2 separate regions of the Homo sapiens genome follow, and region 2 is linked to region 1. A link means that fine-mapping ties the variant in region 1 to the expression of a gene that starts in the linked region. Tissue or cell type: whole blood. Region 1 holds a variant in brackets; the other region holds the start of a gene. All regions are shown on one strand. Distances are from middle to middle.

The links. PIP is the estimated chance that this variant, and not a neighbour inherited with it, causes the effect.
Region 2: MYO9B starts here. The variant in region 1 is fine-mapped to the expression of MYO9B in whole blood (TOPMed, PIP above 0.99).

Annotation. Positions count from the first base shown.
Region 1 is chr19:17,209,579-17,212,418 of GRCh38, reverse strand. MYO9B (myosin IXB) reads right to left here. Exons shown (of 40, transcript NM_004145.4): 36 at 2,710-2,833; 37 at 2,039-2,086; 38 at 1,571-1,704; 39 at 645-772; 40 at 1-524. The coding sequence ends at 109. Among named protein-coding and RNA genes, the nearest start is that of USE1, 4.4 kb to the left of the region's middle. RefSeq lists an enhancer at 1,606-2,111 and a silencer at 2,481-2,590. The variant C/T (reference allele first, on the strand shown) is at 1,158.
Region 2 is chr19:17,074,750-17,077,414 of GRCh38, reverse strand. MYO9B (myosin IXB) reads right to left here and starts at 1,638. Exons shown (of 40, transcript NM_004145.4): 1 at 1,541-1,638. HAUS8 (HAUS augmin like complex subunit 8) reads left to right here and starts at 1,963. Exons shown (of 11, transcript NM_033417.2): 1 at 1,963-2,021. The coding sequence starts at 1,993. RefSeq lists silencers at 1,202-1,496, 1,491-1,840 and an enhancer at 2,021-2,220.

The DNA of each region.
Region 1 (2,840 bases):
TTGATTCTGGATCCTTCTCTGAGGGCCGAACACTAGCTCTGCAGCTCTGGCGCCCAGCTCCAGTGCAGGGGCCGTCCTCGGACATGCAGACTTTGTCAGCTGTGGCTCTCAGCCATTGGTCTGGCCCGAGGCGGGGGGCAGGCAGTACGTTGGGGGATCCGAGTACCTCCGCTTGGCCCCAGGTGGCTGGCCATCCTCTTCTAGGGGCTCCAGGGCGCCCTGCACTGGCAGGTCTGCCCCGGGCGTGATGTACACGGAATGTATCTGGTCCGGGCGGCGGGCAGGTGGCTCCCGGCGCCGCACTGGGGCAGCCGCCTCCCGGGCACCCGGTGCCCAGCGAGGCAGGTGGGAGGGCAGGCCTGGTGGGAGCTTGATGTTGGCCGTGGGCATGATGGGGGTCCGCCGGGGGGTCTTCACTCTGACCGTTACGAAGGACGACGGCCTTCGTCGTGGAGGGGCGGCCACGGTGGGGAGGGGGCTCGGGGTGGGCGCGCCGGGGCAAGGGAGAGCAGGCGCAGGGGGCCCTTTTGAGAGACAGATGGCAGGGTTACTGCAGCTTCAGGGCCGGCAGCCGGAGGACCCTCGCCCTGGGGCCTGCTGGGATGGACGGGAAGGAGAAAAGCAGACGCTACCTTAATACTGACCTTCCGAGGCCCCCCGCCCGGCCCGCTCCTCCAGCAGGCTCTCGGTGCTGGCCGACGTCTCCGAGTCCAGGTTCTCCTCGTCCGAGCCCCTTGGGTCCAGCTCCGGCAGCCGGTAGGTGATGTCCTCCCTGGAGGAAAAAGGGTAGTGGTGTCCAAGGCCACCCCACCGGAAGTGCTGGGCCAGTGTGGAACAGAGCAGGCTGTCCTGCTCCTAGATGTAACTCTGTGTCCCCAACCTCCCCCCACCCCAAGCAGGAGGATTGCTTGAGCCCAGGAGTTTGAACCCAGCCTGGGCAACATAGGCGGACCCTGTTCTGCAAAAAGTAAAAAAAATTAGCCAGGCGTGGTGGTGTGCACCACCTGTGGTTCCGGCTACTGGGGAGGCTGAGGTGGGAGGACCCCGTGAGCCTAGGGGATTGTGGCTGCAGTGAACCGTGATCGCACCACTGCAATCCAGCCTGGGTGACAGAGAAAGACCCTGTCTCAGAAATAAAGGCCGAGTGCGGTGGCTCA[C/T]GCCTGTAATCCCAACACTTTGGGAGGCCAAGGTGGGTGGATCACTTGAGGTCAGGAGTTCAAGACCAGCCTGGCCAATGTGGTGAAACCCTGTCTCTATTAAAAACACAAAATTAGCAGGGCATGGTGGTGGGCACCTGTAATCCCAGCTACTCGGAGGCTGAGGCAGAGAATCGCTTGAACCCGGGAGATGGAGGTTGCAGTGAGCCGAGATAGCACCACTGCACTCCAGCTGGGCGACAGAGCGAGACGCCGTCTCAAAAAAAAAAAAAAAAAAAAAAAAAGTGTTGTTTGCCCAGTGTTAGGGATGACAGGACCAAACCTGGCGAGGTCAAGCGGACCACCAGGGATGGAACCTGCACTCCAGCTTGCCCTAAACATGAAGGACTGAGGGAGGGGACTGAGCCACTTGCTTCTCCTCCTTGATGGACTGGATCCGTTCAATGAGAATCTCCTTTTCCCGGTCCTCATCGCCGCCGGCTGCCTCCTCCTCCAGCAGCACCTCCAGCTCCTCCTCCTGGATGTCCCGGGTCTTGGGGCTCTTGTTCTGAAACAAAGAAGCAAGGGGTCCCACTGACATCTCTGAGTGGGCGAGGTTACTGCCGGAGGTGTGAGCAGATCCCAGGAGGTTAGTTGTGATGTGAGTGTGCTGGGCTCTTAGTGAGACTTCTCTAGGAATCCCATGGGACAGAGTGGTGGTCATGTGGCCGATTAGTCGTCCTGAGCACAGAAGGTCAGCAGGCAAGGGGCCTCCCCAGCATGCACTTCCGGAAGGTTAGGACAGGCTCTGTCTATCCTACGAGGGGCCCAGGGCCCCAGGGAACCCCAGCATGCACTGCACCGGGAGACATGCACCGCGGGCCCACCGAACGCGTACATACCAGGACCCCCTCATAGGGAGACGAAAACCCCAGTTTGAGAGGCCATGGCTGGGAGAGAGATGAACACAGGGTGACCACACGGGCCAAGACAGACACAGGCATGAGCTGGGGATACATCCAATGACCGGTACCAAGATAGGGGGTCCCTGGTTCCCACAGGAGCCCAGAGCCCGTTCCCCACTAACACACCCCTGCACTGTGGGGCTGATTCTTCTGCTATGGGAACATTTCCCCGTGGGTAGGGCCCAGGTCAGAAGGGACAAGGCTGGACGCATGACCTGAACCACCAGCAAGCAGGAAGCTGGTCCCCCTACCTGCCCCACCTAGAGGAACATAATTGGAGTGAGGCTGAGCGAGGACCATCGTCTTTCGTTCAAGGCAGTAAGTCTGCCCCTACCTGCAGGGCCTGGTGGCCCCAGCCAGGCTGGTTGTGGCCAAGGGTGTGGTAGGAGTGGGCGGGGAACTGGGAAGGGAGGCCCCGCCCTGCTACCCGAGACCACACCCACTACCCGGTCCCATCCTCGGCATGGGAGGTCCTGCCCACCCAAGGCCCCGCCCACCAAGACCCCACTCACCAGCCTTCCCAGCAACAAAGCCACGCCCAAGGCCCTGCCCAGCACCAGGCTCCGCCCCACCAAAGAGGTCCCGCCCCCACGATCACCGGTACTCACAGCATTTTGTCGCAGGAGCGAAAGCCTGCGGAAGGCGATACTCTCTGCAGCCTCCAGTTGGCTGATCTCCTCCATCTTCACTTTGTATTTCCTCATCTGCTCCTTGATCAGCATCTCCACGCACCTACAGA
Region 2 (2,665 bases), 130 kb after region 1:
GCAAGCCAGGCCAAAGCCACCTTTCCTAAAGGCCAGGATATTCTGGAAGTGAAGGGGGTGCTTATCTTTCTGTGGCCCTCTTTATATTCCAGCTATCCGGGTTCATCTCCTGAATGAGCTATAAACTAAACATAAGCTGGGGTTCCCCAGCCCTTCTGGCAGATCCCAGATAAAGATCCCTACAGTTGGGAAAGGGGAGAAATGAATGCCAATCAAAAGCACCCTGCACAAAGTCCCTGCCAGGGCCACAAGAGCCAGGCCTGTCAGATGTGAATAACTTTCCTGTAGCCCAGGTCACCTCCGGCTGCTCCTGGACACCTTAAGATTCTGAAGACTCCAACATCAAAAAACAAACCGAGTTGGGACTCTCTGGCTGGAAAGTGTCCCCACGGGCTCCCACCTCAGACAAAGAGGCAGAGAAGCCATCCCTTAAAGACCCCTGGCCTCCAGGGTGCCCAGGAAAGAAAGGAGGGCTCGTGGCTGTCGTGCCTCTCCAGGGCTGAGCTCAGAGCAACCGGGGGACAGATTTCCTGTATGTCGTTTTACCCATTTAAGTCCAAGGATGCAGCTCTGCGGAGGTGGCGACAGTCCTGTACATGAGGGTGCATGCACACTCCCTCCTGAAACACAGTTCCGGCCCCACAACCGGCCCTGAGGTCCCTTCCTTGGATCCAGGGAATCCCAGAATCCTGCTAGTCCTGTCTTAAGGGGAGGGTGGTGAAGTTTCCAAGACGAGGACACTGGCACAGAGGGTGTTGGGACTCGTCCCAGGTCACCCAGCTGTTAAGTGTGAAGTCAGGAGGGACACGAATCAAGAGGGGAGGGTGGGGGGACGGAATCTCCAGGGGCTGCATCTCAACATCTATCTGCACGGGGCCACTCTAACCCCTTCCTTCTCTTCCCTCCTCTCCGGGCCCTCCCTCCCTAAGCCTACCCTCAGTTCTTACCGTGACTTCTACTCCGTTTACTTCCCTTCCAGCTCCCATTTCCCCGCTTCCCAATAGCCGGCTGCCGCATCAGTTAGTTCAGAACCCCCCGCATTTACTGAGCGCCCACTGGGGGCCAGGCGCCGCCCTCTTCTCAGACACCCTTCCTTCAATCGCGCGGGCAGACGTCCCCAGATCGGTCTCGCACCCCTTCCCCTCAACCGCACCCCGGCTGTCCCGCCCCTGGCCTTGCCCACTCCCCCAGCCTGGGCCTCTCGTTCCCGCCTCCGTGCCTCCCCACAACGCCGTTTCCTGCGACCCCCCAATTACCACTTAAGCCACGTCCTCTTCAGAGAAGCTGCTCAAAGCCACAAGACTCACCCCCCCCACGCCCTCGAACTCCCTCACCAGCTCCATCCCCATCCACTTTCTCCTTCACCGTCTCGCTTCCACCTCATCCCCAGCAATCTCTCCAAGACCCCCAGGCTCGTTCCCGCCCCCTCGACCCCTGCCGTCGCGTCCCCCATCAGCCCTCAGCTCCGTCCCTCTTCTGCGCAGCCCCCAAAGGCAGGCTTCGAGCTCGAGTCGCCAACCCGAGGCTGCCTGGTACTCACCTGGCCTCGGCCGCCGCGCGCCGCCGGTCCCGGGCCGGGTCCCCGGCCGGACGACCGCCTGCCAGCCCGCCGCTGCTCGAGCCGCTCCGCCCCGCCGCGCCCGCCGCTCCCCCGCGCGCTCCCGCTTCCGGGTTCCGGAGAGGCGGGGACGGGGGCGTGACGCCAGCGCTCCTAGGGGCGGGGCATCGCGAAAAGCCCCGCCCCTACTGTCCGACAGATCAGGTCCCACCCACCGCCCCTACCCACTACCGCCGATGGTGGGCGAGACCAAGTGCGAGGGGAGGACAGGCGAAGCGCGCGTCTGGGGCCGCGCTCTCCACACTTAGCCGGCGCTGCCTCACGCCTCGCAGCCACCCCTCCTGCGTCTCCACAAATGGTCCGACCCGCAAGCAAGGGGGCGGGTCCGGCTTTGAAAAGCCGGCGGGTCGGGCCTTGAGGTGGAAGGCGGGAAAATGGCGGATTCCTCGGGGCGAGGCGCTGGGTGAGTTGGGGCTTCCGCAGGTCTGGATTTGTAGACGCCATAGGGCTGGAGAGGATGGGCAGCGGAGGTGGGGAGTTAGGACCCTCGGGGTGAGTTCGGGTTCGACCCCGCCAGGAACTGCGCGGGCCCCTGAAGACCCCGATGGCGTGCTGCCTCTGCGCATGCTCCGGAGCGCTGACACCCGACCGGCCCTGAGTTCCGCGTCCTCGGCTGGGACGCTGGGCGACCTCCGGCAAGCGGCCTGACCGCCCAGTGCCTCGCTTTCCTCCGCTACGAAATGGGGCCGATGACGCAGCTCAACCTCGTAGGCGTCGCGTGAGGCTGAAACGCGCTTAGATCGGCGCCTGGGTCTTTACTGTGATGTCGCTCTTGGAATTATCGTTATGCAGTGAACAAGTGTTGGGCGACCAAAGTGTCCCCTTTAATCCTCCCACGCGCTTTATTCTGTGCTCCCAGTTTACTGAGGAGATGATGGAGACCCAGGGAGGGGAAGTGACTTGCCTAGGGTAACACACCATGAACAAGAAAGAAGTTGAATACTGACCGAGAGCTAGGCATGAATGATCATGAGGCTATATTTGTCTAGTTTTGTTAATTCTGCCAGTGTTGATTGTGCCAGGTGCAAACTGAAGTGAAATTGGCCA